Linked DNA regions of Homo sapiens: regions 2 and 3 are each linked to region 1. Evidence: fine-mapped expression QTL. A gene starts in region 1. Each other region holds a variant in brackets. All regions are shown on one strand. Distances are between the middles of the regions.

Region 1 (11,004 bases):
TGAGCACCTAATATGTTCCCAACATTTCTTTAGGTGCTAGGAATACAGCAGAGAATAAGATAAAGCTCATGCCCTCAGAGATAGTATGTCTAGGAGCAGAGTAAACAAGCAACAATTTAATTTCAGATAGTAATAAGTGTCATAAAGACCACAGAGCAGGAAAAAGGCCAACAGGTGATGTGGAGGTGGGACAGGCCGTTGTTCTAAAAAGAGTAGCCAAGGAGGGCCTGTTTTCAAGAAGTCACATCTGAACAGTGAACTGAGTAATAACTGCTTACAAATTCCATTGCAACCACACTTATATAATTTTTATTCTATATGTCTCATGTGTCCTGAATTAGATGAGATTTTCTTTTGGTCAGGAGCTGTCTTTTATATTTTTGTACTCTCCCATAGCAACCAGTGTAGCACTATGCACAACCAAGACTCAGTGAATCACACTAGAATCAAAAGCATTTCAAGCTTAAATATATTTTTAAAGATAGCCAGCAGAAGATTCAGCAAGTTACCTGCTTGCCAAGCAAAGGAAAATCCAGGGAAACACATTAAATCATCAGATACTCAGCCCAACACTAGACTTCCTGCTTGCTTTCCGTTGCTAGTCATAGTTGCAGATTCTTATCAGAAAATTTTCAAAACATGCCATGATCTGGTCGTCTGTGTATAACTTTACACATTGGTGAGATCAGATACTGAGTTTTAATTGTCAATTTCTGCTGGCATACCATCCTGTAATGTAATTTCTTGTTTTTTACTCAGCTTCCCCTCAACTTCTCAGTGTTCTGAGTGCCCTCAAAGTTTCATTCAACCCCTATTTCTTTAAGATAATCAGCGAAGTTCTGCAGAAGCCCACTAGATCCTATTAAGTCTCTGAAGGCCTAAAGGAGACTTCAATACACTTGCAAATCCTCTGAAGGTTTAGTGAAACCAGTTCAGATGTCTGGGGAAGGTTTTTCACAATTCCAGTTTGAGATTCACGTAGCTGTTAGAAAAACTTTCCATTTCTTGCAGGATTCTCTTTTTCTTTAAATGCTTTCTTTGGACCAAAAACAATGCAATAAATACTGGAAGGCTGGCCCACGAGCCAACATCATGGGGACATTCCTAACTGAGGAATATCCATGCAAATATGCTTCATATCAACTCTATAAATGATTTGCTGTTTGACCTTTGCGAGTTACTTGACTGTTTGAACCTTGGGATCCTTGGTTATAAAATATGATGTCCCTTTCTCTGATGACACCCAGGATTGTCATAAAGATCAAATAAAATTACTGAAAGAAGAGAGCACTTTTTTTCTTTTCTTTTTTTTTAGAAGGAGTCTCACTCTGTCACCCAGGCTGGAGTGCAGTGAAGTGATCTCAGCTCACTGCAACATCCGTCTCCCAGGTTCAAGCGATTCTCCTGCCTCAGCTTCCCAAGTAGCTGGGATTACAGGTGCCCGACCCCACGTCGGCTAATTATTGTATTTTTACTAGAGACTGGGTTTTGCCATGTTGGCCAGCCTGGTCTCAAACTCCTGACCTCAAGGGATCCTCCCGCCTCAGCCTCCCAAAGTGCTGGGATTACAGGCATGAGCCACTGTGCCCAGTGAAGAGAGCACTTTAAAGCATGCTAATTGTTATAGCATTACAGCATGCTATTAGTACAGTAAGAGTAATTCACCATGTTCTTATACTCAGGATGGTAGGTATTTGCATCCCTTCAGTCTTTCATTTCTGCATGAAACTCAAGAAGCAAAATTCTGCCAGCATGCTCTTCCCCTTGGAGCTGTGTTTCTGAGAAGCTCTCCTTATTTCTCTTTGCTTTTTCAATTTTTCCCTCACAGATGTGTTTGAATCACCCTCACCTTTGAGTGAAGTCTTGCAGCCGTATCCTCAGTGAATGTGCCCCTTTGGCTGAATTCCTTGTGTACAGCTGCCATTTGGTCCCTAGATTTTCATTTGGCTTCAGTTAGTTGGCTCTTAGTGACGCCTGTCTTTATGTTCTCAGTGCAAGGACTACTTCTGTAACTAGAGTTTCTTGGAGGGCAGGGGCTGTGACTTACACCTCTTTGCATCCTTAGCTCAGGCAATATGTTTTTATTAACAATGACTTTTGGAGACTGCACCAGGTTAAACAGCATTCTCTGAAAATTCATGTCCACCTGGAACCTGTGAAAGTGACCTTATTTGGAAATAGGGTTTTTGCCAAGTAATCAAGTTAAAATGAGGTCATACTAGATTAGGGTGGGCCCTATGTCCAATGACCAATATCCTTAAAGAAGAGGGAAATGTGTTTGCAGAGGACACACAGGAAAAGGCCAGAGACTGGAATGATGCATCTGCAAGCCAAGGAATGCCAGGAATTATCAGCAATCACCAGAAGCTAGGAGGGGGCACAGTGGGATCCCAGCCTTGCTAACACATTGATTTCAGGCTTCCAGCCTCCAGAGCTATGAGGAAATACATTTCTGTTGTTTTAAGTTGTGCAGTCAGTGGTATTTGTTAGGCAGTCCTAGGAGAATAACACAGGAATGCTGAGCACAATGAGCATGCTTACAATGTGGCAGAGACCATTCTGGGGCCACTACCATCTTTGGGCAACCCACTTTCAGAAGACCTGCAGGGCCGGTTACAACAAGTTTTTAAGGGATGAAAGAGAGTAACCTGGCCAAGCGCAGTGGCTCACATCTGTAATCCCAGCTCTTTGGGAAGCGAGGCAGGCAGATCACCAGGTCAGGAGTTTGAGACCAGGCTGGCCAATATGGTGAAACCCGTCTCCACCAAAAATACAAAAATGAGCTGGGCGTGCTGGTGTGCGCCTGTGGTCCCAGCTACTCAGGAGGTTCAGGCAGGAGAATCGCTTGAACCCAGGAGCGGAGGTTGCAGTGAGCCGAGATTGCACCACCTTACTCCAGCCTGGGAGACAGAGCAAGACTCCGTCTCACAAAAAAAAAAAAAAAAAAAAAAAAAAAAAAGCGTAACTTAAGGCAGTGAGTAGAAAGGAGAGGGAAACAGCTGGGTATGGTCTGAGAATAAAACAATCCAAAACAAAAATTGGAAACTTTATGATGAATAGGTTTTTAAGAAATAGTTTGCTTTAGGACAAAATAGTTGATTTGGAAGTTGGAAATAGAGGAGCAAGTGAGTGAATGGATATCCACTTTATGACATGATACACGCAAAATAATAAAATTGACCTCTTTAGGAGGAAGTGCATGTATTTCCTAGCATGGCTTGTTTGAGATGTGTAAGCTGTGGTTAATGATGGCTAGTGGTCCCTTTAAATTCCAGTCTTGGAGACCTCAGTGGTTAAGAGCATGGACACCATTCAGACCACCCACTTACTGGCAAGTTATGTCACCTCACCTGCCTCCCTCTCATCATCGGTAAAATCAGAATTAAAATAGCACCTCCCTCATAAAGTTGTGAGGATTGAAAGAGTTAATCCGCATAAATTGCTTAGAACAGTGCCCAGGGTGGATAATAGAAGCCTTAATTGTTTTTACCATCATGACTATCGCCATCATCATGTGCAAATGAGGGAGACCCAGGAAGTGTAAATTATTATTCCAGAAAGAGGCGGTCCCATGGGGAGAAAATGAAGGCAAAGCTGGCCATTTGCTTGAAAGTACGTCTGTAAAACGAATATTAAAACACTTGCTCTCCGAACACAGGGAGTTTTTAAAAAGGCGTGGGGGCTGGGGTAGACTTAAAGTCTCTCTACTGCTTTGGGCAGATTCCAGATTCTGGGAGTGAAGCATATGGGGACCCATGTGACCCTCCCTCTTTGAGATTCACTGGGTCCTAGGTCCTAGGTCCTACCCAGCTCCCCACCCAACAGCCATGCACATTGCAGGCCCTCAGTCAACACTGATTGACGCAAGGGATAAAGGAACAAACCGACTGGGATTGACTTGTCTGGTGCCACTCCCTGCCCTGAAAGGCAAGCCCTGGGAGCCCCCGGCCCCGAAAGGACGTGGAGCCTCGCGGGAGACTCCTGGAAGTGCGTGAATAGCAAGCACAGCGTGGTGCGCCCGCTTTACAAAGTTAGCATATTCACAAGAACCCGCTCGGAAGGCCAAGTCCTTGATGTCGGCCAATTGGTTAAGTGGCTGTGTGCTTTCTTTCCACTGCACTTATTCGGTGATCCCGATTGGCGTCCGCACAGCCGCCACCCTCACTCTCGCTTGAGGATAAAAAGCAAGCCGATTTGGCATGTAGGCACTGTTTGAAAAACAACTTTGCACTCTAGTTATTCGGCAAAAAGCTCCACCTTCCCACGCTGCTGATAATATTTCTCGCGGCTGCGTGGGACACTCCTCGTCTCACCCATGAGAGCGAGCTGCCTTCTGTCTGGTTGGGCGATTCCTGCAGGGCCTGAGCCTCCGCAGAGCCCGGCGTTCAAGGAGAAAAAAGGAGCCGCGGATGTGAGTTTGCTTCGTCACTGCCTTGTGAGCGACTTTGGGCAAGTTACTTAGCTCTCCTGACCTCAGATTTCTTGTCTAATGTGGGAGGGAACCGAACGTGGATGACGCTCCGGGCAGCGGCGGAGAGCCGAGATCACCGCGCGCGCCTGAGAACTTTGTCCGAAGCGCGGCCCGGGGACTGGGAGCGCAGGGCAGGGAGCTCCCTCTGCGGGAGCGCGGAGGCGCTCCTACTTTCTCCGCACGTCACGGGGGCCGCTCAGCGCTCTCCCACCCCGGGCCGGGCGAGAGCGGCTCCCCAGCAGGGCGACGGAGGAGCGCGGCGAGAGCGAGCCGCCGCGGAGAGCCTGGGAACCCAGAGCGCAACCCTCGGCCCCCGCCGGGGCGGCCTCCGCAGCCGCACGGACCCCGCGTTCGGGGCTGGCCCGCTCCCTCTCGTAAGTCGACTTGGCCACGCGGGGGAGCGAGGGTCGCCCGGGGCTGGAGATGTTAACCCGGTCTCAGCCTCGTCTCCGCCGGGACGCCCCGACCCTCTGCTCCTCACGACTTTCGTTTTCCCGCCGGGGAAAACTTCGGCGCCGCGTCCATCTCCAGGCGGCAGGCGGGGGCGCCCTCTCGGAGCCGCGCGGGGAACCGGGCTGAACCCCGGCCTCTCTCCGCGCCTGCAGGAGCCCCGGGGCCACCAGAGCGCGCGGCGGACGGACACAGCGTCACGGGCCGGGTGGGCGACCCGGCGCGCGCCTAGCAGACGCCGCAACTTCGGGGCTCCCCGCGGCAGCCGCCGCCTGCGGCCAGACGCGGGGAAGTTCCCCGAGGCCAGCGGGGGGAAAGGGCAGCGGGCGGCGGGCGCGGAGCGTGTCCTGGATAACGGGCGCGGGCCGCGGAGCCGGCTTCCTGGGCTCGCGGGCGGAGTGGAGCCGCCAGGCTGGAGTCGCGAGCGCGCCGGCGCCGGGCTTTCCCGGGACTCTCCCCAAGTGCCAAGAAGCGGCTCGTGGGCGCGCCCTTGCCGGGAGCAGGGGCATCCCGCCGTCCTGGCCCTTCAGAGCCCAGCGCCGCCCAGCCTGGCCCGCGCCGCTGCGAGGCGCAGGGGGCCCGGGGGAGCTACTGAGCCCGGCTTCGTGACGCTTGCCTTTCGGAGCCGCTTGCCGCTTCTCCGCAGCCCTGGACCAGAGGGGACAAGCGATGCTGCCCGAGCCCCCGCCCCTGGGCTTCGGGACAGGGACGCGGGGCGCCTGAAAGGACTGCTACCGCGGCTTCTGCGCCAGGGCAACCGGGGCTGGAGGGGGCCTCCGAGTTGTTCTTTGGGGGCGGAAGCTGCGGGCCGCGCCTCCCAGGCCGCGCCCTTCCCAGAGACCAGTTTCTGGGCTTTTTAAGGTCAAGTTTTTTGTGCCGCAGAGCGGGCCGGGATCGTCTGCCTGCGAGGTGGCGGTGCCTACCACAGCGGGTCGGGAGCTTCTGGGATCCGAGCCGAGAAACGGGACGCTCGAGTCCATTTGCAGTCTTCACGTAGGAAACGGTGCTAGGTAAACGGGGCGAGTGGGTGTTTTGTAAATTTAAAGACTCAGCTTTCCCTGACGGGGAAGTTTTCCGAGTCACGTAGTCTGGGAAACAGTGTATTGTCCCCTCGTTGGGCAGGCAGAGAGGCGATATTGGCCTTGGGGCACTTTTTAAATTCATTTTTTTCTTTTTCTTTTTTTTTTTTTTTTTGTCTTTAAAAATGGAAGAACAACAAACCAGAAGATTAACAGAGTTGGGGCTAATATAATGCGTTTAATTGTCTCATGTGAGTAGACAGAAGTCGCCCTTTTTGATCTTGCATTCATAAAACATGTCCCTATTAAAGCATCAATAAGCCTAAAACATTCTAGAAACTAACAGTTCATTCTGACAGCTTTTGTTGATAGTCTCTTAAGGAAGTAAAATCTTTAAAAGTGAAAAAGTGAATCATTATAGAGAGCATATCCTATGTTGCACTTTCTAAGGATCCAATTTTGTGTGAGAAATGACCAGTTAAGATGTGTTGTTGATTTATCTCTTTCTGGTATCAGGAGAGAAACAATAGCCAAGGAACTGTGTGGCCGCTGAATTTTCTATGGGGAGACTGAAAGGAGTTTCCTGCTGCGGGGTGGTGGTGGGATGAGAAGGTTTATACTCTTTTCTTTGGGGGAAAAAGTTTATACTGATTTGCTAAATGTCACATCTCCTGCACAGAGGTAGGTGGGGTGAATGGCATAGTCGGGCAGTCAGAGTTAGCACTTTATGGCACCTGGCCAAGTGCCTTCAAGATAAGCAGGCCATAAATACAGGTGCTTCCCAAACTGACTTTGAATGACCTATGGTTGTTTTCTAGGAAGGGAGAGGGAGAGAGAGCAGGTAGAGGGCCCTGTACCTGACGGTGCTGTTTCTGCCTCATCCTTGACCCACGGGTGCTGGGAGCATGACCTGGTGACCTGGGGCTTATCACAGCACCACATAGGAGAGGTAAAACGGAGTCAGCTTCAGGGGATTTCCTTCTTAGGCTACAAGGCGGGAAGAAAGCAGTGAGACAGTAAAAATGAGCAAAGCAAGGCTGAAAAGTGAGTTCTTCAGGCCACCTGTGTTGAGCACTGGCTGTGAACCAGGCTGTGAACTGTCCCAATGTGAACAGCGCATTGGCTGCTGTGAGGCGCAGATGTGCTGCAGCTCACTGCATCTGTGCTGAGGCAGGAGGCCTTGCTGGGGAGACTGAAGGTGGGCTCAAGGATGAGTGGGAGCTGTGTAAACTAAGCAGCCATGGGGGAGGGGAGAGGTGAGAAAGGGGAGTATTCCCATCCCCGGGAATGGTGTGTGCTGAGACCAGAGGAGAGGAGAGCCTGAGAGGTGGAAGAAAAGACAGGTTCAGTATGACCTGAGGGGAGGATGGAGAATGGCACCGGGGAGGCCAGCAGATACCACTGCCAGGTGATGCCAAGGGGCATTGTGGCGAGTGGATCCTCAGGACAGTTTCACACCTGATAGTACGCAGATGAGATATGGATTAAAAGCAAAACAAAACTCCAGCTGCCCCGTGGAGAATGGACTTGAGGAGCCCCTAAGTAGACAGGGCTGGGTCAGAGGGTGCAGGAGGCCTGGCAGTTGAGACTGAGGTAGTGCCAGTAGGGATGACACGTTGGGCGGATTCAAGGCCGGCTCTGGAGAGACCTGGGGCTGAGTTTTGTGTAGGGTGTGAGAGCAGATGAGTTTTGTGTAGGGTGTGAGAGTGCAGCGTGACTCCCTCTAAGCTTGGGTGCTGGTATTTACGGAAACAGGGAACATTGGAGGAGGAAAGACAAGTTTGGTTTTATTGGGTCTGGGCAGCTTTCGAGGCTCCTAAGTGGAATGGCTTCCCTAGTGGCCACATAGTGCACTCGCTGGCTGACTCTCCACAGATGGTGGTCCTCTGTACGAGGGGTGTGGTCTGAATCCTGGGGTGGATGGGGTGGGGCGAGGCGGTGGTGTCTGAGGACTGGAAGCTGCTCCCAGAGTGAGAGGTGGGACGGAGGGCTAGGTACTTTAAGATGAGGGAGCCTTAGACATATGTGAATGCGATGGAGCGAGTTGGAAGGAGAAGCTGAACACACAGGATGTCTGGATCCCCTCCCCCTTGGATTGCGATGGTATTTTGATATCAAGCTCATGTAATGTAAACTGTCAACATCTTACAGAAACAGTGTTTTAAAGCACGTGTGACTGCGAGTGATTTACTTCACAGATCATACAAATGTAATGTTTAGGAGAAACATGGATGATAATCACGCAACAGAGATGCAGCATGGCTAAGAGCAAGGCCTCGCAGTGAGACTGCTGAGCTCCTGGGTCTGACTCTTGTCACTGCCTAGCTTAGGACCAGGCCCAAGCTTCCTGACATTCCTGTCTCAGTTTCCTGGTCTCTGAAACGGCACCACACCTAAGGGGTACGTGCTCTACAGCACCTCCTTGTGGGCTGTTGTAAGGATTGCCTGTGTGCATTATGCAAGCACATAAAGTGCTCAGTAAACCTTAGTGCTGGTGGTTTTATTATCATGATGCCATTTCTATCATTTCTGGTTGTAGAATCTGAAACGTAGAGAATGTTGAGAACCTGTCCAAGCCCATACAGCCAAGGAATGGCAAAGTTAAGGCCAGGATCCGATTTGCCTGACTCACAAGGCAAGGCACCTTCTACTTAATGTGTCAACAAGTGTCAGGTGCTCGATGCTGTATAAAATTAACTGTAATAAAGGGATCCAGTCACTGCTTGCCAGAGTGTAGTGAAGCAAAGCAGATAACATCAACATTGAGGCTTACAGACTTTTCTCAAGCAATTTAGAGATGTATGTTTTGTATTAATTTGCATTACTTTGCATGTCATTTATATGCATTCCCATATGCTTGTAATTTTCCTAGTGGGATCTAAAGACTGAAGCTTCAAGTATATAAGAGAAAAGAAAATTAATCAGGAATTGAATGCAGCCGTTTCCATCCTAATAGATCTCTGGGGATGGTGGGCTCAGTGTGGGCATTTGGAGACAGGATTGGATCAGTATTTACTATTTTAGATGTGGGGAGCCAGATATCATTTGATAAAGGTAGCTCACAACTTAATATGTTATGAAGTTTGATCTGCTGAACGTAACAGAAAAATACAGGCAAAGTGGAAGAAGACCAGAGGAAAAATGTCTACCATATAAGATGCCAGAAAATGAAGCAGAAACAGAAGTCTGCTTTATGAAGCTGAACTAATAAGAAACACTAAGGGGCAGAAAGGAAAGATTGAATTTCTGCTAAGCGATATGAAATGTTAAAAAGAACAATCTTAATCACAAATGTGTGAGGCTTCAAAACCAGTAAATTCTTCCCAATGTGGATTTACTGAGAAACAGGCCATCGGGTCTTAGTGGAATCTTAGAACTACAGAGTATTACAAAAACAAACTACAATTTTGTTACTTAGAGCAGCGGTTCTCAAAGTGTGGCCTCAGGACCAGTTACATCAGCATCGCCTGGGAACCCGTGAGGCTCAGCAATTTGTGTTTTAATAAGTTCTTTAAATATTTAGAGCCAGCTTTCACTCCTCTATTGAGTCATTACTTCTTCAGCTTTAACCTTTCCAGGTCCGTCTTGTGGTCACTAGCTTCTCACTGGGCTGCTTAACTTCTATCAGTTACTACCCAGCAGAGGGATGTAGCCAGACATGAACTCATTTCTCAGGGTGTCTGCTCAGTACAGAGCAGAGTGGGTTGGTCCCTTCCTTAGTCCCAAGGTCTAAACTGTGGAAATGCTTTCCTTTTTGGGTGGTACTATTCATAGAAACAAGGATTTGCAGCCTGCATTCAGCTTTCGCATTCTGCAGCTTTGTGGTTCGCATGCTGTCCAGGAGCACGATGGTTTTGGTTTTGTTTTTGTTTTGCTGCATTTTGCTTTCTTTTGACAGTCTCGAACTAAACTGTGACTCGTGCCAAATGTATGGTCAGCCAAAACACTGAACTGTCCTCTAGAGATGCTCTTGTCAAACCACGTTTCTCCACGAACCACAATTCTCCATGAACCAGGGTTCTCAATTAACGAATACAGTTAATTTTTTGCACGTGTTAGTTTTGTACTTCTCTCTGTTAAAATTTATCTTACTAGATCCAGGTAATCTGCTTGGTTCCTATTTCTGTTATTTTCCATATAAGCTGAGTCTCAGCTTTGTGTCCTTTGCCAATTTGGGTGCTGATATCCTGGTTGAGGGGTTAATAATAACGTGAGCATCTTTGTTAGAGGCCTTCCTCACAGTTAATGAGGCTCAAAAACTTGGCATCTTTTGCAGTCCTTCTGGGTTAACATCAGAGGAATAGTTGTCATCAGTGCAATCATTGTTTGCATTTAAATTACTGTTATTCTAAAGTCCTCCTGCACATGGTTTCTCTTTATAGGGCCCATGTTCTAGAACTACATCCTCGGTCACTGTCCCAGTACAGCCATCTGTAGCACCTCCTCAGTAACTGACGGTGATGTTCCTTTCCCTACGCTGTTTATACCATCAGCCTGGGGTTTTCTTTGGAGGTGACACAAAGGTAAGTTTCAGTTTATTTATAGTCAGATTAAGATGAATTCAGAAGCTTCAGAATAATAGGAAGCAAAAAATTGTGCCTTGTAATTTCTCTCTGCTTTACCTACCTCCCCCAAGCTCTAAAACCTAAGAGTTTTGTGCTAAAGTCTAGATTTAACCAAGAGATTCAGGTTATTTAATTTAAAAAAAAAACCCTAAAATGTTGCTCATACATGATTCTTAGAGGAGTACAATTAGGTAATATAATTGCAGAAAATTGTTTTTAAAGGCAAAAGGCAGAACAACTTTGTGGTAGGAATGCTTTTAGCTGTGGTTTCTAGAGCATGAAAAAGTACCTGGAGTCCTAAACTGTTGTATCATTATCCTTAACTAATCCAAGTCAAGCCTCCCCCAAAACCCCACCCACAGTGAAATTCCAGCCTTAAACCAAACCTCAACATCTCAATAAAATCCAGCCACTCTCCTCCTCCAAGATGCTCCAAAATGCTTCCAAACCTCTTTTGATGCCATGTGCTCCCTTGCCATAGTAAGCAAATCAATAATAA
Region 2 (11,004 bases), 110 kb before region 1:
GCACTTCTTCTGTCTAACACCATAGCCCATTTGCTCCCTCACTTCCCAGAGCTGACCTATACTGATCAAGAGTCTTTTCTTCCTTTGAGTAAAGTGAGCCCTGAGCATTTTAATTTTTCTTCTTTTCTTTCCTATTTGTTCCTTTGCCCCACTTCGAACTTGGCTCTAATCCATTTCTGCCTCACAGTCTAGCATTGGCTGTCTCCTATTTGGCCTTTGCATATATGAAATAATCTCTGGTTCCTTCAATGATGTTAAAGGAACCAAAGACACAGGCCTCTATTCCCAGAATCCAGTTTCCCCACTTACTGCATTCCCTCTTGCAATCCTCCAATCTGCCTGTGGTTCATATGCTCTTGGCACCATGGCATATCCTGACTAGTGGTGAGAGAAGAGAATGACAAGACAGGAGTGGAAGTCTAGAGAAAAGTCATGAAAATTAAAAGTTGAAACCAGTAGTTGGTGTGATGTCAGGCAAAGATGATCAGAGAAATGGCCTAGGCCCTGGGTATTGGATTGCTGAAATGCCTTTGGTGTCACAGGAGTAAAGATGTAAAACAGGGAAGCCTTGGGAACCCAATGCTGGTCCTACTACCTGGGGAGTGTGAGCTTCTTTAAGCATTCTGGAGTGTTGAAGGAACTAGAATATATTATCTTACAGGTCTTAATTGTTTTATGGGAGAGATACTAAAAGATAATATCCTATTTTCTAAAAGTGAAAAAGCAGTAAAAAAAAAAAATCCACATCTTACCATTCCATTAATTTGAAATATCCGTAATAGTCAAATCTATAGAGACAGATTAGAGATGGGGGGTCTAGAGGGTGGGGAATGGTGAGTGACAACTAATGGTTAAAGGGTTTCTTTTAGGGGGAATGAAAATGTTCCAAAATTAGATTGTGGTGAGGGTTATACAACCCTTTTAATATACTAAAAAACAATGAATTATATTCTTTAAATAGGTAGACTGTGTGGCATGTGAATTACATCTTAATAAAACTGTTAATAAATACATTTTTTAAAGAGTGGAAAAGTTAGAATTTGAGAATTACAAATGATCAGCTCAATGTTGTTCCTTAGAAAATGTGCAAAAAGTTATTAAATATATGGTTGGAAGACATAGGCAAGAATGTAGTGCTCTTTGGGAATCATAGGCATCACTAAGAACAAGTCATGCCAGACTAACCTTTATTTCTCTTTTATTAGGTTTACCTTGTTAGTAGGTAAAGGTAATGGCATTGAAATAAGCTATCAAAACTTTAACAAAGTTTTTATTTGAAGTATCCTGTAATCTGTGAGTGTATGGGATGTTGAAATGAAGGGGTTTGTTGGCATTGATTTGGGGATTCACATATATTGAAAGAATAGGCCTCAGACATGGTGATTATTCATTTTATGTGTGTCTACAGTGAACCCTTTTTTGTTTTTGTTTTTGTTTTTGTTTTAGACAAGAGTTTCCCCCTATCACCCAGGCTGGAGTGTAGTGGCGTGATCTCGGTTCACTGCCACCTCTGCCTCCTAGGCTCAAGCGCTTCTTGTGCCTCAGCCTCTTGAGTAGCTGGGATTGCAGGCATGTATCACCATGCTCAGCTAAGTTTTTGTATTTTTAGTAGAGATGGGGTTTCACCAGTTTGACCAAGCTGGTCTTGAGCTCCTGGCCTCAAGTGATCCGCCCGCCTAGGCCTCCCAAAGTGCTGGGATTACAGGCAGGAGCTGCCACACCTGGCCTTGCAGTAAACTCTCTTGTGAAAATTGATTATACATTATATTATGTGGTAGAACTCTGGACTGTTTGGCTAGAACATGAACTGATTTTGTTATTGGAGTATTTTAAAGAAATCCCAGACATAATACTATTTTACCCATAAATACTTGAGCCCAAACCTCTAAAAGATAAGAAAAAGTTTTTCATACTCGCGATATCATTTCACCTAATAAAAGTTAAGTTTCTTTATACCATTTAACATCCAGTCTATATTCAGATTTCTGAGGTTATCTAAAATATGTGTTTTTATAGAAAGTTTTAATTTGAATTAGAATACATTAAGCCTCATACATCATATGTGTTTGTTATGTATCTTAAATATGTTTTAATCTACAACAGTCCTTTCTATATTTTAGGATTTTTATGTCTCCTATTTGTTGAAAAAAGTGGCTTATTTGTCCTATAGAATTTCCCAAATTCTGGTTTTGGCTCATTTTATCTTTGTGGTATTGTTTAGCTTATTTCTTCACATATTTTCTGTAAATTGTTATGTTTTGATGGAAAATCTACTTAGAGACCACAGTCTGGATGCAAGGTATGCTCATTGCTATTGGATGTTATTGCTTTTAGGCGTTTTCAGTGAACTATATCCTTTTAGAAGGAAAAAAAATCATGAGTTTATGCTGATATTTTCATTTCAGACTTCATAGCATAGATTTATGCTTAACTTTCGTTCTCTACCTACTCGTATGTCTTTTTTTAAGCTAAACATTTGTTTCTTAATACAGTAATTGAATTATTTCTTTATCATCTAATATACTTACAATATTACTACTAACAATGCCAGTATTACTATTAACAGTGAAACTACTAATGATGTTTATTTTGGTAGTTCTTTTTCTTAAAGTATATGCTATTAGGGATGAAGAGTCAGAATACTGTCTTTTGAAGTACAAGTTGAATATTCTTTATTTGCAATGCTTGGGACAAGCAGTGTTTAGGATTTTGAATTTTTTTTGGATTTTGGAGTATTTGGACTTTAAACCTTTATGATCACATGGTCCATACCATGGAAGTGGGTACAAAAAATTACAACTCTGAAAGCATAAGACATTGAATCACAACAAAGGACACAATCTAATTGTAAAAGCTATAAAATGTCTTGGAGAGAAAAATGCCATACATATCACAGGGACAATAACAGTCAAATCCCTTAAAAATTATTAAGACACAGCAACCTAAAAATTCTACCTTTCAAACTACTTTACATTGGGAATTTAAGGCCAGCTAGGGAAATTGAAAGCAATGGTAGATACGATTAAATCTATAATTCATATACAAGCCATATACAAGCAAAACATAAAGAATTTATGCCTGGATATTTACATTTTGTTCAGCAAAGAAAATACAGAATGCATTGGTTTCTTTCAGGAAAAATAGTTTTATAAGGAGGTTGCTATAAGAGCTGTGGTGTTTATCTCTGGATGTTTTGTGTCAAATTCAGGATCAAGGAGCATGAGAAAAAGGTACGGAGGAAGGGAAAAGGCAGAAGCTAGAGCCTCACTCTTCTGGAAATCCAGTTGGTGATCCCAAGGGAGTGAATACATTACTTTGGCAGTAACTAATACTTTGGCAGTCCTTTCGCCAACTATCTACACTTACCAATTCCTCTGTAGCCCAATACTTGGAATTCTGACGCCTGCTTATGTACTCTCTACCTTTAAAAAGCTCTCTCCTCACCAAAGAGTAATAAATGACTTTCAGTGAGTGTCCACCTACTTTAAACCTACATTTAGGTTCTGTATTAGTTATCTGTTGCTACCTAACAAATTACCACAAAACTTAAAATAATAATAAACATTTATCATGTTGCAGTATCTGTGAGTCAGGAATTTCAGAGTGGCATAGGTGAGTTGGTTCTGTCTAAGGGTCTCTCATGAGGTTGTAGTCAAGATGTTGACTGGGAACACAATCAACAAAAAGTTTGGGGTTGGAAGATCTGTTTCTAAGGTGGCTCACTGACATAGCTACAGGCAGGAGCCATGTTCATTGCCACATGGACCCCTCCATAGAGCTGCTTGAATGTCCTCACAGTATGACAACTGGCATCCCCCAGGGTTAATGAATCAAGATTGAGAACAAGGAGGAAGCCACAATACTTTTTAACCTAGCCTTAGAAGTCACATACTGTCATTTCTGCCATATACTATTTGTTAAAAGCAAGCCACTAAAACTCCAGCCTGTACTCTTGAGGAGGGAAATTAGGCTCTACCTTTGGAGGCAGGAATGTTAAATTTACAGACATATTTTAAAGCCACCAGGGGTTCTTAACTGGAACAAGAAGAGAAATTTCAGTAAGTGGCTAGCATCACAGTCATCACTTATTTAGCTTAAACAGTAGGCCCCTTAAGGAAATACACTTCTACTTAAAGCTTGCCCATGGCTTTTCACCTTTGATCATACTATTGATTCAAGTACTTTCCTCCCTCTAGAATCAGCTGACTTTCTTACATAAGAAGTTAGTAGGATAGAGAATAAAATTCTTTCAAGTCCAGGTTGAGCATCCCTAACCGAAAAATCAGAAATCCAAAACTTTTTGAGTGTTGACATGATGCCATGAGTGAAAAATTTCACACCTGATTTCATATGATGATTGCAGTCAACACACTGGCACACAACATACAATTTATTCAGTCACCCTAAGAGAAAAAGACCCTCTTAGCTCCCTTCAGCTGCAATTCAGCTTTTCTGGACATGCCCAGATTCCTTCATGCAAGCACATCCACAAAGGGTAATAAAATAGCACACGTTCAGATCAGACACACCAACACCAGGTTCCCCACGTTGCCCCACATGGGGCCAAGACCTATGTGCATTACTCACTGTGGGTTTTTTGCTTATTTTCTGCTCTGTGGTATAAATATATTATTGAAAGTGTCAAAAAGGCCTGCATCATACCCATAGGGTAGTGCAAATATTCCAAAATCCAAAATTCTAAATACTGCTGGTCCCAAGCATTTCAAATAAAGAATATTAAACTTGTACTTCAAAAGACAGTATTCTTTCTCTTCATCCCTAATGGAATATACTCTAACAAAAAGAACTACCAAAATAAACATC[G/A]TTAGTAGTTTCATTGTTAATAGTAATACTGGCATTGTTAACAGTAATATTGTAAGTATATTAGATGATAAAGAAATAGGTAATTCAGTTACTGTATCAAGAAACAAATGTTTAGCTTAAAAAAAGACATACAGGTAGGTGGAGAACCAAAGTTAAGCATAAATCTATACAATGAAGTTGGAAATGAAAATATCAGTATGAACTCAAGATTTTTTTTTCCTTTCTAAAAGGATATATTTCACTGAAAATACCTAAAAGCAATAACATCCAATAGCAATGAGCATACCTAGCACCTGGGCTGTGGTATCTAAGTAGATTTTTCATTAAAACATAACATGAGAACAGTATGGGAGAAACTGCCCCCATGATTCAATTATCTCCCACCAGGTCCCTCCCACAGCACATGGGAATTATGGGAGTACAATTCAAGAGGAGATTTGGCTGGGGACATGGAGCCAAACCATGTAATTCCACCCCTGACCCCTCCTAAATCTCATGTCCTCACATTTCAAGACCAATGATGCCTTCCCAATAGTCCACCAAAGTCTTAACCCATTTCAGCATTAACTCAGAAGTCCACAGTCCGAAGTCTCATCTGAGACAAGACAAGTCCCTTCCACCTATAAGCCTGTAAAATCAAAAGCAAGTTAGTTACCTTGTAGATACAATGGGGGTACAGGCATTGGGTAAATACAGCCATTCCAAATGAGAGAAATTGGCCAAAATGAAGGGGCTACAGGCCCTATGCAAGTCCGAAATCCAGCGGGGCAGTCAAATCTTAAGGCTCCAAAATGATCTCCTTTGACTCCATGTCTCATATCCAGGTCATGCTGATACTAGAGGTGGGTTTCCATGGTCGTGGGCAGCTCTGCCTTTGTGGCTTTGCAGAGTACAGTCTCTGTCCTGGCTGCCTTCATGGGCTGGTGTTGAGTATCTCTGGCTTTTCTAGGCACATGGTGCAAACTGTCAGTGGATCTACCATTCTGGGGTCTGGAGGACAGTGGCTCTCTTCTCACAGCTCCACTAGGTAGTGCCCCAGTAGGGACTCTCTGTGAGGGCTCCAAGCCCACATTTCCCTTCAGCACTGCCCTAGCAGAGGTTCTCCATGAGGGCCCTGCCCTTGCAGCAAACTTTTGCCTGAGCATCCAGGCATTTCCATACGTCTTCTGAAATCTAGGCAGAGGTTCCCAAACCCCAATTCTTGACTTCTGTGTACTTGCAGGCTCAACACCACGTGGAAGCTGCCAAGGTTAGGGGCTTGAACCCTCTGAAGCCACAGCCCAAGCTCTACATAGGTCCCTTTCAGCCATGGCTGAAGCAGCTGGGACACAGGGCACCAAGTCCCTAGGTTGTACACAGCATCGGGACCCTGGCCCTGGCCCGGGCCCATGAAACCATTTTTTCCTCCTAGACCTCTGGGCCTGTGATGGGAGGGGCTGCTGTGAAGATCTCTGTCATGCCCTGGGGACATATTCCCTATTGTCTTGGGGATTAACATTCAGCTGTTTATTACTTATGCAAGTTTCTGCAGCTGACTTGAATTTCTCCTCAGAAAATGGGATTTTCTTTTCTATTGCCTTGTCAGGCTGCAAATTTTCCAAACTTTTATGCTCTGCTTCCTGTATAAAACTGAATGCCTTTAGCAGCACACAAGTCACCTCTTGAATGCTTTGCTGCTTAGAAATTTCTTCCACCAGACACCCTAAATAATCTCTCTCAAGTTCAAAGTTCCACAAATCTCTAGGGCAGGGGCAAAATGCTGCCAGTCTCTTTGCTAAAACATAACAAGAGTCACCTTTGCTCCAGTTACCAACAAGGTCCTCATCTCCATCTGAGACCACTTCAGCCTGGATTTCATTGTCCACATCATTATCAGCATTTTGGTCAAAGCCATTCAACAAGTCTCTAGGGAGTTCCAAACTTTCCCACCTTTTTCTGTCTTCTTCTGAGCCCTCCGAACTGTACCACCCTCTGCCTGTTAGCCAGTTCCAAAGTTGCTTCCACATTTTCAGGTATCTTTTCAGCAGCACCCCACTCTACTGGTACCAATTTACTGTTTTAGTTTGTTTTTACACTGTTGATAAAGACATACCCAAGACTGGGCAATTTACAGAAGAAAGAGGTTTAATGGACTTATAGTTCCATGTGGCTAGGGAGGCTTCACAATCATGGCATAAGGGGAAAAGCACTTCTTACATGGCAGCAGCAAGAGAGAGAATGAGAACCAAGAGAAATAGATTTCCCCTTATTAAGCCATCAGATATCATGAGACTTATTCATTACCATGAGAACACTGTTCATAGAGAAACCGCCCCCATGATTCAATTATCTCCCACTGCGTCCCTCCCGCAACATGTGGGGATTATGGTATTACAATTCAAGATGAGATTTGAGTGGGGACACAGAGCCAAACCAGACCACCACTCCAGGTCTCTTTTGCCATTTGCATGGTATGTCTTTTTCCATCCTTTGACTTTCATCTTGTTTGTTATCTTTGAATCCAATGTATGTCTCAGATAGTATATTTTTAAAAAGAATCACATCTTACCATCTCTGCCTTTTGATTAGGTTGTTTAATCCATTCATATTTAATGTTGTTATTGATATGGTTGGATTTAAACCTGCCATTTCCCTTTTTGTTTTCAGTCTATCTCATCTTTTTGTGTTTTTCCCACCTATACTGCTTTTCTTTTTACATTAAGTGAATATTTTCTGGTGTAACAATTTAATTCCTTTAATGATTTTTTTAGTATATTTTTGAGTTATGCTCTTAGTGGATGCTCTAGGGCTTCTTAAGTTATCAGAACTGACTTCATTCTTATGCTAACCTTTTTCCAGTGAGATATAGAAACATTGTTTCCGTATAACAAAATTATTTTTCCCTATTTTTGTTCTATTACTGTTATACATATTATGTTTGTATATTTTATAAATACAATATATTGTTACAAATATTACTTTATATGGTCTTAGGTCTCTTAAAGAAGCTGAGATAAGAAGAGCAAGTATTTATTTATAGAGTTTATTTTATTAAGCTTCCTATTTTACATTTCTGGCTCTGTGCATGTTTTCCTATAGATTCAAGTTACCAACTGGTATCATTGTTTTACTCCAATTCAGCTTTATTCTGATCTGCCTCTTTTGTGGTATTATTATCAAGTATATTACATTTATAAATGTTATAGGCCTTGTAATACAATATCATATTGTTTTATGCCATTGCTTTTTAAATCAGTTAAGGGAATAAAGGAAAATAAATATACAATCATATTATCTCCCATAATTATCTGTATAATTACCATTATTCATAGGCTTTTTCATGTGGATTTGAGTTATTGTCACTTGCTTTCAGCCCAGTTACCTTTAGTATTTCCTTTAAAGCAGGTCTTCTACCAATAAATTCTATCAGCTTTTTTTTTTTATCTGTGAATGTCTTTATTTTGCTTTCATTTATAGTTTTGCTAGATATAAGATTCTTGCTTGGCAGTTTTTTTTCCTTTCAGCATTTTGACTGTCTCATCCCATTGTCTCTGGACCTCATTGTTTCTAATAAGTGAGATACTAATTTTATTGGGGTTCTTATCTAAATGATAAGTTCTTTTTCCTTTGCTGCTTTCATGATTTTATCTTTGACTTTTAACATTTTGACTTTGATTATGTCTAGATATATATCCCTTTTGTTTATCTTTTTTGGAGTATGTTGTGCTTCTTAGATGTGTGCATTAATGCTTTGCATCAGATTTGGCAAGTTTTCAGCTATTATTTCTTTGAATATTTTTCTCTGCTGCTTTTTCTCTCTCCTGTCTTTCTGGAACTCCTGTAATGTGTATGTTGTTGTGCTTAATGGTGCCCTATATTTCTCTGATGTTCTATTCATTTTTCTTCATTCTTTTAAAAATCTGTTCTTCTGATTGTGTAATCTTTGTTAATCTGTCTCTCCAAATTCAGTGATTCTTTTTTTCTGTCAGCTTAAACTTCCTGTTGAGGCCTCTGGTGAATTTTTCTTTTCAGTTATTATACTTTTGAATTCCAGAATTTCCATTTGATTTTTTTAAAACTTTCTGTTTATTAATATTCTCTATTTTATAAATTATCAACATATTTTTTCTTAATTCTTTAAACATGGCTTTCATCAGCTCTTTGAACATATTTATAATAGCTGTTTTAGAGTGTTTTTTTGCACATATAGGCCCTCTCAAAGCAGTTCCTGTGGCTGCTTTTTATCCTGTGTATGGGTCATACTTTAGTGTTTCTTTTCATGTCTGTCTTTCTCTCCTTCTCACTATCTCTCTCTCTTTTGAGACAGAATCTCACTCTGTTGCCCAGGCTGGAGTGCAGTGATGTGATCATAGCTCACTGCAGCCTCGAATTTTTGGGAACAGGTGATCCTCCTGCCTTAGCTGCCTGAGTGGTTGGGACAATAGGCATGCACCACCACACCCAGCTTTTTAAAAAATTATTTTTACTTGTATTTTTTGTAGAGATGGAATCTTGCTTGTGTCACCTAGGCTGGTTTAGAACTGCTGGCCTCAAGTTATCTTCCTGCCTTGGCCTCCCAAAGCACTGGGACAGGCATGAGCCACTACATCCGGCCAAAACTGGACATTTAAGATAATGTATTATAGCAACTCTGGATCCTGAGTCCCCCAACCCACATGCCCAACTTGGGTTGCTTCTTTGTTTGATAAGTTGTGAAGTCTATTTCCCTCACAGTGTGCAGTCTTGTGACCCTGTTTGCAAAATTTTTTTCTTGTTTTTATCTTTATCCTGGTTTCCAACAGAATACCCTTGGTTCAAGACCATTTAGTGGTCAATTACTGATTGGTTAGAGGTTGTGTTTAACCTTCCTGAATCAGAAAGATTTTTACATTTTACTGTTGGATCTGGTGTGGCTTATAGACTATGTTCATTCTTCAGGGAGTTTTGAGTTTGGCCTACATTTAGCCAGGGACCAGTAACTCAGAAGTTTCTTCTCTAGCATCTCCTCAAAGGACATTGCCTTGGATATACACAACATTCTTCTGGGCCACCAAGATGGACTATAGTTTTAGCCAGGCTCTCTTTGACTATCTATTCGCTAATCTCCTAAGCTTCTGAGTAGTCTGCCTCTATTATATCACAGCCATCTGTTACTCTTCACTCATTGCTAACTCTCTGTTCTTGGTGTTTTCTTTTCTTTTGAAGGGTAGCATACATTTGCAGGTGAGTAGTTTCATTAACCTATTTACTGTCTCTAAAATCTTGGCAGTTCTTCATTTCATTCTCTCTCTTTCAGTCTAAGATGCAGTGTTTCTGCAGACAGAGCATTTTCAAAAAACCTTGTGAGTTTACCGTGTGTCACAGGGATTCATGCCATTAGACAACAGGGTCTTTCATAGATCAGGGATTCATGCCACTAGACAACAGGATCTTTCACAGATATTTCCACAGGCCCACCTATATTTCTGGCTTCTGCTAAGATGGTTGAATGGGTCCATGAGTCACATTCCTACTCTCTTCAGCATTAACAAAGGTTTTCCAGCTATGCCCTTGGCCTTCTCTACAAAGCACACTTTTCTTACAGGAATCTCCAACTTTTACCATCTTTTCCAATCTTGATGGACAGAATTTCCCAAATCATCAAGTTCTGGTTCCTTTTTGCCTAACAGTTCTTTCTTCAATTTATCTTTTTCTCCTCACATTTTACTATAATCCCCAAGAAGAAACCAGGTTGCACTCTCAGTGCTTAACTTGGAAATCACCTCAGCCAAACCTCTAAGTTTAGCATTTATAAGTTCTGCTTTCACACAACTTGCAGGACAAATCTAGGCTTTCTGGTACTGTATAGCAAGGAACGCCTTTCCTCCAGCTTCTAAAAACTTGTTCTATATTTCCTTCTGAGCCCTTGCAAATAATGCCTTTAATGCTCATTTTTTCACCAACATTGTGTTCATGATGATATATGCATTATCTAAGATGATACAGGTTCTCTCTAATATGCTCCTCCTAAGCCCTCCCTGGTAGGATCTTTAACATCCACATTTCTACCAGATGTCTGTTCAAGACAATCCAGGCTTTCCAGTTCCAAAGCCACGTCTACATTTTTAGGTATTTGTTACAATAGCACCCCACTTTCTGGTACCCAAATCTGTATAGGTTTCCTATGACAGCTATAACCCAGCACAAACTGGGTGGCTTAAA
Region 3 (11,004 bases), 900 kb after region 1:
TCCACTGCTCTACCTCTTACTTTTGATTTGTTAATGAGCAGGAAATAAACAATATGCCAATAAGTAAGGCTTTAATGACTTTGCAACATATGAACTTTTCAGCAAATGTCATTTTTATAAGATAGAATTATGTGCAGTTTATTTGGAAAGTAGGACTACCCTACCTTTCCCAGGTTCTAGGCTAAAAATCTCATATACTTATATACTTAGGGCCAGAATTTACTGTGAGTAAATAATTACCTGAATGGTTATTAAAGTTTGAAATTTCCCACAAAGTTGAGGCAACTTTGGTCCAGAAACTTTTAAAGGTAAGTATTATCTGTGGGCATAAAATAATCTACCTATGGCACACTCTAAGGTAGTATTTTGAATTGCTCTTCTTCTGAGAGGCTACAAAATGTAGCCTCATTTATTTTTTGTGTCTGTCAGATGGAGACCTCTTTAGCAACAGAAATGGTTAATAGTTGCCTGAAGAAAGCTATTCTGCATGGTCCAACAGAGACTCAATGACAAAACATTATGCCAAATCATGTCTTTCCTTTGAAATCATGGCCCAGAAAAAGGGGTTAGCATCAAAGAGGAGCTTTCTAGCTGTTACTTTAACTTGTAAAGATTCTAATCCCTAGGTGGCACTGGTTGGTATTAACCTGATACAGGGTGTTGGTCACTAGCAACCTCCACTGCTTGAGCATGGATGTGTTGGGGAGCTTGTCACTACCCATCAGCAAGCAGGCTGCACCCCAGGAGCCAGCCTCTGACAATGGCAACAATCACCAAGGCTCAGGAGTGAGGTGGCCTCATAACCACAGGGTTCCAGTGTGAGGCCTTGAATCTGGTTACTTCACTACACAGGTTAAGCCAGGTGCCAAATAAGTTGCCTATACCTAGAATAGGCAAGTGAATATATTTATAGAGTAAATAAATGGATGAATGCCACTGAGTATAAGGTCAGCAAAAAACTCTGGGTCTGGAGCCAGCCATCTCAGCTTGATAAACATGCCGAGAGGAAACAGGGCATGTCCCATGACTACAGCAGGCTTGGATGCACATAATACAATTGGACTCTTGATTCTTGGCATCTGAGAACCTTGAGATCCTCATGACAAAATAAGAGATAATGGGAGGCCCAAACCAGTTGGTAGGACTGTGTACGGGTCAGATTAGGTCGAGGCCCTTCTGTTTGTAGGACTAGAAAAAGGCAATAGCACTTTCCCACCCACTTTCTTTTCCCAGAGTGCTCTCCTTGCCCTATTTTGGGCATTTCCCCACCTACACTTTCAGTCATAGGTCACATAAACAAAGGGAGGTGAGTGAGAATCTTCCAGGCCAGTGGTTCTCTGAGCTTTAAAAATATACCAATGCTGAGCCCACCCCAGAGATTCAGATGTAATTGGGTGGAGGAACCCCAGGGAGTGGTATTTTTCACAGCTTCCCTAGATGATTTTCAAGTGCAGCTGGGGTCGATAGCACCATCCTGGCCAGATATTAATCCCTCTCCCCTCCAGCACATACTTACTTCTTAATGTGAATAGTTAAGATGTATAAGAGCCATCTCCTTTCCTTCCTTTAAAGAATCGGAAGGGTTATTTTCTCACATATTCACTTTTAAGTACAGTCGTCCCTCGATATCTTCAGAGGATTGGTTCCACGATGCCCATGCAGATACCAAAATCTGAGGATGCTCAAGTCCCTTATATAAAATGGTATATGATGGGCATATCACCTATGCACCTTTTCCCATATGCTTTAAGTCATCTCTAGATTACATATAATACCTAATACAATGTAAAAGCTACACAAATAGCTGCCTTTACTTGTATTTTTTTATTTTTATTTATTTAAGATGGAGTCTTGCTCTGTTACCCAGGCTGGAGTGCAGTGGCGTGATCTCGGCTCACTCCAACCTCCACCCCCTGGGTTCGAGTGATTCTCCTGTCCCAGCCTCCTAAGTAGCTGGGATTACAGGCATGCGCCACCATGCCCAGTTAATTTTTGTATTATTAGTAGAGACAGGGTTTTGCCATGTTGACCAGGCTGGTCTTGAACTCCCGACCTAAGGTGATCCACCTGCCTCGGCCTCCCAAAGTGCTGGGATTACAGGCATGAGCCATTGCACCTGGCCTATTTTTAAAAAATATTTTTGATCTGTGGTTGAACCTGTGGATGCAGAACCTACGGATATGGCTGGCAGACTGTGTTGCAGAAGACTGCTTATTCAAAATGATGAGGTCTGAATTAATTGTTATTAAGGATATTCCTTGTGTTTAGGGAGCATAAGATCAAAAACACACTATGATTTTATAAAGATGTTTTTATGTAAGATTTTTGCACAATGATATAAATTAGTACTTTAAACCAATTATTACTCCATCCCCAAGCAAAAACAGCTGCAACTAATAAGCAACCAATGACTAAAAAATTAAAAAGAAAAGCAACGAAAGTTCATGAGCAATCAGTAAGATTGCTATGACATCACCATGGATTCAACCATGACCCTGCTAACCCCACTGACTTGGCCTGTGGATCACACTATCACCCCATAGCAGGCATGGCATGGAATCATCCCTAATTATTTCAAAATGGCAAGATTACTTTTTTAAAAGGATTGAGCCTTTTAAAACTTTTTAGAACCTTTCTGTGATTTGCATGCTTTTTGAGATCAGACTCCCAGATTTTATATTGTTTTTCAAGGCAAATTGAAGTGGGGAGTGGGCTACTTCTCCTGAGCAGTGGTGAAAAGGGGAATTGGGACACTAATTAAGATATTTCCCTATTTTTTATGTGATTATATTCCCACTCTGTCTTCATTTTCCCCAAAGTGAATAGTCTTCAGTCTTTTCATTTGTTGAAAACCTTTCATGTGCAATTGTGTTATCATTGAAGATCTTCTCTAAATGTGTTAAAGAGAGGAAAATTGGCAGTAATGTTTCTCAATTGATATTTCCAAACAATACAATTTTAAAAATACATTCAAAGCAAGAAATGTGTACCTGCACTAGTAACATGAACTCTATTCCATGATATTTTGGATGGATTCATTCAAAAGATGTAAGATGGAAAAAACACACATCTTCTTTTATAGCTGTAGGACATTATTGAGTTCCTCAATGTGTTATTTTTAGATGAGAGGTTTTCAGAGAAAGAATGCAACCTTCTTCAAGCATATTCAGGAAAAGCTGTTAATCCATGTCTGGTCCTTGTCTTGCAGCCCTGCAACCCTCTTTGCTCCCCACCTACAGGATCCATGCAATGATGAGCTAACATCCCCAGCTAGCGCATCCAGTGCATCACTGGTTGGTGGGCAAAACTTCCTCTTGTGATCAATTTTAGTAACTATAATTCCACCTTACTGCTCTTATCTGAATGTGGCAGAGATTTGCTAGCTGGCCAGCAAACCTGTTTCTTCTTCCTCCTGGACACTTAGCTGGTGGACACAAGTAGATTTGCTGAGTAAATGTGGTCACGTGGTCAATTCCTGATCAGTGGATTTTAGGCAGAAGTGATAAGAGTCCCTTCCAGCCCTGGTCCATTAAAAACCTCCTACATGTGATCCTCCATGCTTTCCTCTTGTAAGTTACACTTGATGATGGGAGAGCCACAAGATGAAAGGAGCCTCGGTCACTGGGTAACTGAGTCACCCCTTAAAAAGAGGTGCTTATTAATCAAGAATACTTGGTTTGAAATGTATGTGAGCAAGAGATAAACTCAGTCATTGTGACTTGGGGGTTCTCTTGCATCTGTTGCAGCAGCAAGAGTTACCTTAACAGACACATTGAATACCTGTTGCCATCTTCTTGGTTTCTCCAAGTCCTTTTGAGGACTAGGGCCCCACAATACTCTTATCAGTTGTCACCACAGGTTTGGAGCCATCCCTGAACCCCAGCTGAGTGAAGTGAACCTTGACAGCTACTATCTTAATGCTAAATATCCATCTGGCCTGTGGAGAATCTTACCTCTGTATTCTCTCATCACTGGACTGAGGTGCTTTGGCAGATGTGATATCCCAGTGCCAACTTCTTGTTTGCTTCTTTTCAAGGTTCTCTGCTCAATCTCACTATAAGCCTGACCTCCCTGCCTCAATTTGTGTCCCCTCATTCCCTTGGTACATTTAATTCTATGTTCTGACACCTCCCAGTCTGTTTTATTTGAACCACTGATGAACATCTCCTGCCCAAACTTTAGGCCAGTGGTTCTCAAAGTGTGGCCCCTGAGTCAACAGCATTAGCAGAAATTCAATTCTCAGGATGCATTCAAAATCTACTGAATCAGAAACTCCAGGGGTAGCTCAGCAATCTGTGTTTTAATAGCCTCCCCCCTCCCACAGGTGATTTTGAAGCATCCTCAAGTTTCAGAACCATTGCTCTAGAATTCAACATTCTGGAACATGGCCTTCGGCCTTATCCACCAGGACAAGCATTAGAAAGCAGTTGTGCTGTGATTTCCTCCAGCAGAAGAACATGTCTGGAATTTACCCAGATAATCCTGGCTTTTCCATTTGGTGGTGATCTTTAGATATCCCTTTGAAATGAAACTTAGAGTTCCTAACACTAAGATAAAGCATTTTGATTAAGTACATGACTATAAATTACAGTGCTTTTCCAACATGAAACAAGCAGAGCTCTTCAAATCCTTTTATTGTGTGTTTTCTTTTTAACATAGCCATGAAAATTAGATCACCACTAGAAAGCCAAGAGCAAGATCCATATTTTCTGGAAAAATATGCTGAGCTTAAATCTCAGTGTGCTGCTGATGAGGTCACCTTTCATCTCTAGAGGGTATTTGATGCTGACTACATCATGTTTAAGGTTGCAGAATTGACTCTGAAAACACCGATTTTCCTTTTAAAAATGTCTTGTCAAACAGTGGTCCCTGGGGATAATTAAATGATGAATATCCTTGTTCCTTCAAAAAGTCAACATACTAAAATATGTAGTGGGTCACTTTGAGACTGGTTTCCTTAAGAAAGTGACAACTTGGTGAAGATGATGAGACACTACAAGTGTTGTTTTTTTCCTCTGACAGCCTTAATGACCATGGAATGTTTCTTCAGAGTGTTTGGAATATTAAAGACTCCCTGGAGAAAATGATATTTGAAAGCCAGGTACTCTTTGAAAAGCAGACGAAAAGAAACTAAAAATAAACATTTTTAAGTACACGGAAAAATGGACAGTGTCAACATTGCGAAAAC[G/A]ATTCCACACTCTCACGCTAATGATATGCAGGAATAGTTGAGAGTTTTCTATTTGTGTCTTAAATATTTTATGGTAACTTTGAAAGATTTCCAAAACTCAACAAGACACAAAGAAAAGTATCACTTTGTGGGTTACAGTCAAAGTTCAAAGCATAACCAGTGCAACCTCATGGAGGTTACAGCCTAAACGAGCCTCCACCATCCTGAGTCCCAGACTTGGTCATTGTCAAGCCCATGTAGATGGGGAAGCATTTTGCATGCAGGAATTTATGTTTGGCATTCATTTTCCAGCTCTAACTGTAATACAAGCTCTGAGAAGTAAATATGTTTAGACCTGAAGGCTATTTTTTTACCCATGTTGGAGCAATGATGCAGACTCCTATGAAAAAAAAAATCAAATAAACAATAAAGGTAAGAGAAAGGAAAGGCTGAGGATATTCAACTTATTTAAGACAAGTGCAACAAATCTCAACCAACCCCTTCAGATTTCTTTTCAGACAGGAGCAATAGAGGCTAGTTCTTATTTATACGGTTGGCTTCTAGTCCAGATATGTTTATTTCCAAAAACGTTTAAGATTCCTTAAAGTAAAAGGTTGAGATCATTGTCATCGGCACCAGCATCGCCAATCTGTGTGAGATGTTTATGCTTTTTTAGTTCAGTTAATCCCTTGGAAAGTGTGACCAAATGCTTTTTATACTGTGCTTCCATCTGGTTTTAAAATGCCTACATCTTTTGAAGGAAGACACTCCAGCAGTGGGGCTATACCAAAACCTCAACCTTGTTCAAAGGCATATCAGTATCATTCTCTAAAGTTTTTGATAAATTATCATCATCAAAATTGATTTTTAACACCATGTTTACATGGAGCTCTGTGCTATATAATAGTCAAATTAGCAGGGAGTTATATTTCTAAAAACTTAAGACTTGAGATAGCACTCACTAGGATGGACATTAGAGAAATATGCACTACCAGCCAAACCATGTTTAGTCAAATATAAACAAAGCAAGCATCTACAGAAAACATTAATATCATGAACAGGGAAAAGGGTCATACATGATGTGGTATAAGGAGCAGTGGTGGCTATTGCAAGCTTAAATGGAACAACGGTTATAACATACACAAAACACACACCACACACACCACACACACACACACAACACACACTTTCCTGGTTTTGGCACTACATGGAGATCTTCCTTATGGGTGGGTTAAAAGGCTGCTCATGTTTTCTACACCTTTGCCCACCAGGTTGGATCTCAGGAATGCATTTCTCCCTTTTTGTTTTAAAGTTCAATCAGAAAGAACCTCTTTCCAACCAATGAGTATTTAAAGAACTCCTCCCACGAGCTTGCAAATGGTACCGGGACAGAGGATGCTGATTTTTGCAAAGATAATCATCATAAGCCTTCGAGTTAGAGAAACAGAGAGCTACCTTATCCCAGAGTGACAGACAATATTTTGCAGAAGATATTAGAGGAAAGCAGGATCTTCCATAGAAATCAATTCATAAAGACATCATCTTCGAAACCTGCATTTGGGCAAATTATAAGCCAAAAAGTAAAATTTAATAATGAATACATTGAAGCAAGCAGCAGACACCTAAACATGGATAACAGTGTTTGAGGCAAGATTACCATGGAACATTCAACAGGCTCTAGACTGGACCAATAGAGGGATGGCTCCCTTAGCCCCACAGGTTAAAGGCTGTCTCTGGGGCCTCCATGAGAAGGGAATCAGGAATGCTATAAAGCTTAGGGTATACCTTCTTATTAATTGCATGCAGTTAATATTTGAAAGTTGCATTAGCTCTTACTTCAGAATATGGGCGTAATCATTCTCATCAAGCCCTTTTATCATCTTCATAAAGTCTTCAGTTAAAAATTAAAGCAGAGGTAAGGGACTGTCACTTTTATTATTTGGATTATGTTAAATATGTACCTTCATAATTCAAATAATTGAAATAAAATGGTTTAATTGTAAACAAGAAAAAAAAATCTATAGGAATAAATATAAGAGATACCAAGGTTGAGAACCTACTTTGCTACTACAACGAAGTTATGTGAGAAGAATGGAAAATACCAGGTGAATGGCCCCACTAGAGATGCCTACCTAGGTGGGCCCTAGATCCCATGGTACCCAAGTTTTCTTGCTTTTCAGCTTAAACCTCCATAGAGAAGCTGCCACTTGATTTCCTGCTTTATGGGAACTACCTCCCCATGGCCTTGTCTCCTCAACGTCAAGGCTGAGAGATGCCTCTTCCCCTGAGTAGTCATCTCTTCAGTCACTTCTATTCCTTATTTCCCCATCCCTGTCCTGACTAAAATCACGTACTCATCTCTGCTTTTATTAGGAGAGTGACTGGTTTGCAATGAATGATCCCTCCTCTTCTAGTGGGACTCTGTTCCTTCCTCTTACAGAACCCAAGTAAAGCAATGTCTTAAACATGAAACAAACACACCATCTACTTGGCAAGTATTGCTCATGGGTACTAATGGGAGTTTGGTTACCAAGCTTATCTGGCTCAGTCCTGGGCTTGGTGAACATAAGCTATACAGCCAAAATAGAAATGTGGTAGTGAACAGGAAAGGTAAAAGGCATTCTAGATTCTGTGCATAGACACAGGGAAGATAAGTTTGTTCATTCATTTAACAACTATTTATTAAACTTACACTGTGTCAGGTGCTATGTTAGTCAATGCGGATACACAAGAAAAAAACAAATGAAAGAGTGCAGATAAGAAAGATCTTTAGGAAATGGATGGGAAGCCCTTGAGACAAAGAACAGCATCATTATAGTCCAAGCAGAACAATACTTCCTCAATCCATTAAGGATTGACAAGAGGGCTGATGAACACAGAGATTGAGAGAGAGTCCCGGTGAAAATTCTCCACAGCCTTGACCATTGGTTCTTAACCATTTTTTCTGCTGCAATATTCACAGCAATGGAATTCACAATAGGCTATATATCCTCATGGGTATGACCAAGTACAGAAGATAGGGTTGATTATAACAGGAAATCCAAAATAATGGCTTAAACAAAAAGAACCTCTCTATGTCCACCTTGATCTTGATCTCTATTTCTAGAGTCCAGGGTTGGAACAAAGCTCCATGGTCATTACTAATCCATCTATCTCTATACCTACCATCTTTGAGTCTGATTTCTAACCTAAAGTCACTTTGTGATCCCAAATGGCTGCTGGTGAACCAATCATTACATCCATAGTACAGGCAACAGGAGGAAGAAATCCAAAGTGAGCCACAAAGGCTCCCTTCCCAGTTAAGTCTGCTTTCTTTAAGCAACCTTTCTAGAAGTCTCAGACACTATTTCCTCTATTTCATTAGCCAGAACTTAGTCATATTGCCATACTTAGATGGAGAGGAGGCTGGGCACATTGCCACCACAAATCAAACAGAAGTTTTGCTAGAGGGAAGAGGAGATTGGGGAAGCAGCCAGGTCTGCCTCTGCCATACCAGGGTTACACACCGATTTCCAAAGCACTATCACCAACTCCACCCCTCTCTCTACTCCTCGGGTAAATACATAAATCAAAGAGGAATATTATTACAGGGCTAACCTCGTACCTATATTAGTTGGCTTTTTAAGAATAAACTACTTGCAAACTTTAGGGATTTATGTGCTATTATCTTGACACACCTCAAAATCCACTGTAATTTACCAAGGTGTTGTGACATTATGACTGAGAACGCTGCCTATGTAAAGTAGGTAGCTGTGTTGATGAAAAAAAAATGGAGTGAGAAAATGTGAAGGAAAAAGTGACAGGATGGATTCTGCAGAAAGATGACTTACTTTTAGACATGAAAAGATGTGAGAAGTAAATTATTTAGAGGCTTTTTCTAGGAACGTTAGCAATCTGGTTGTGGTGGTCATAATGGAAATACTCTTAACAAAATACTCTTGGCCTCAGGGCCTCTCACAGAACACCAAAAACGGTATGTGTTGGCTTGGTGGCCCCTACTGGACCATGCCTCCTGGAATTCATGCTTTTGTGAAGCCCCTTCCCGTGAATCTGGGCTGTCCTGGGACCACTGAAACCAGAAGTGAAACTGTGCCAGTGGTCAGCCTACCTTTACAGAGTCCTAGAAGTTTATTTTTGCTTCTTTGCTCTCTTGAGTTGCCATGTAAGAAGTCTGGCTACTCCACTGGAGAGGCCATATAGAGAAGTCCCATGACTACATGAAGAGAGAACCCAGTAGTCCCGGCATTCCACAAAAATACAGACCCCCAAACTCTCCACCAGCTGATTGCAGCCACACAATGGCCACTGGCAAGCCCACATTACACAATCATTAGCAAATAAAATGGTTGCTTTTTTAAGCCACTACATTTTAGAGTGGTTTGTTACCCAGCAATTAATAACTAAAATGCCACTACCCCAAAACATATCTGCAGGCTTATGATGGGACCCCAGCCAATGTGGCCATTACAGCTTGTGCTGCCACTGCTGTGACTGCCAAGACAGCCCCAGCTGGTCTCTGCAACTGCAGCCAAGAGAGTTTGTGCCCTCTGGATCCCTTCAGTCTCCCACCAGTACCACTTCCCCACTTAAATCCCTGGTATGTGCTTTCTTCCAGACCCTTTGCCCTGACTCTGGCAGGAGCACACCTTGCCCTGTATCCCTGTCCAGTCTCCCAACAGGAACTTGTGCCACCCCTTCCCCAACTTTGGAACATGCACCTCAAGACAGCCAGTCTAATATATGTATGTGTGTGTGTGTGTGGAGGCAGGAGGACAGTTCTAACTATACATGGGTCAAGGCCTGTCCTGGAACCAAGGTCAGAAAAATGATCTCCTGGCATCTTCAGTTGGAATCTGCAATGCATTTCCCCATAAAAGCACTATTGTAGATGATTTCAGGTCTTGTAGTACTACTCAGCTATGTTGCCAATTAAATAGACATTTGGGGGCTGGTCTGGGAACATAACTACACTTTATAACGTTGTCCTAATGAGAAACAAAATCCAAATAACTGGCTGAAAAATGAACCTTTGAAAGTAACCTGATTATAAGTCAGAAACTGTCATCCTATGTTGAATACCAATTTTGTAGTAGATGCTGTAGGGGAAATAAGAGAAAAGTTTGAGGCTTCTTCCCAAGAAGTTACATTTTATTTGGAAGATGAAGACACACAAGAACAAACAGACCAGGCAGTATATAAGCAAGTCTTAAACTGTGTGAGACTGACAATCAAGTGTTTCAGAGTTGCAAAAGCAAGCCCAAATGTTTCTTTTCCATTATTTATTTACATTGGCTTCTAGATGCCTGTTTTGAGATGTCTTGTGGACTCAATGTTATTCACAATTGCCCAAGTGCTATTTCACTGTTAATGGAAAATAGGTGGGCAGGTACAGGAGGCGTCTGGATTCACCTGGCTGTAGAGAATAGCTGAGTTCTGGGGCTTAGGGATTAGCTACAGGAGGGGAATAGCCAGGTGGCTTCATAGAAACCCAGGCATCTTTATAGCTGGCGTCATGAAGAGCCACCAAAGAGGTCCCACCCACTGTGCTTCTCAGCTTGTGATCTGGGAACATTTGTATCAGAATCACATTGGGGAACTTACTAAAAATGCTAATTATTGGACCCCAATCCAGATACAAGAAACCAGACTATCTTGAGGGGGAGAGGCTTGAAAATCTGCATTATTGATAAACTCCCTAGCTGATTAAAGTTTGAAAGCTGCTGTTCCAAACAAAGCTGTCCACCGTCCCAGAGATGGAAGAGTCCTGCTAAGATCCCCAGGAGTATCTTCCACTGGGAAGCTATCATGAGTCCAGATTGCTAGCCTTAGCTCCTTAC

Direction of the effects. Positions count from the first base shown, and alleles are read on the strand shown. Sizes are in standard deviations (SD) of each study's normalised expression. Not every link is listed here.
For the expression in prefrontal cortex of the gene that starts at base 5,802 in region 1, A is the high allele of the variant in region 3 and G is the other (moderate effect, 0.70 SD a copy in ROSMAP).

Evidence for each region. PIP is the estimated chance that this variant, and not a neighbour inherited with it, causes the effect. A credible set is the group of variants that fine-mapping cannot tell apart.
Region 2: its variant is the best candidate, but not a certain one, in a credible set for the expression of GCNT4 in whole blood (INTERVAL, PIP 0.65).
Region 3: its variant is the best candidate, but not a certain one, in a credible set for the expression of GCNT4 in prefrontal cortex (ROSMAP, PIP 0.66).

Annotation. Positions count from the first base shown.
Region 1 is chr5:75,047,356-75,058,359 of GRCh38, reverse strand. It overlaps GCNT4 (glucosaminyl (N-acetyl) transferase 4), which reads left to right and starts at 5,802. Exons shown (of 4, transcript NM_001366737.1): 1 at 5,802-5,931; 2 at 6,133-6,191; 3 at 10,323-10,463. RefSeq lists an enhancer at 2,110-2,700 and silencers at 4,546-4,915, 5,036-5,085, 5,306-5,555.
Region 2 is chr5:75,156,911-75,167,914 of GRCh38, reverse strand. The region is part of intron 11 of ANKRD31 (ankyrin repeat domain 31); the gene reads left to right. Among named protein-coding and RNA genes, the nearest start is that of ANKRD31, 74 kb to the left of the region's middle. The variant G/A (reference allele first, on the strand shown) is at 4,825.
Region 3 is chr5:74,147,180-74,158,183 of GRCh38, reverse strand. No RefSeq gene overlaps it. Among named protein-coding and RNA genes, the nearest start is that of LINC02122, 50 kb to the right of the region's middle. The variant G/A (reference allele first, on the strand shown) is at 5,189.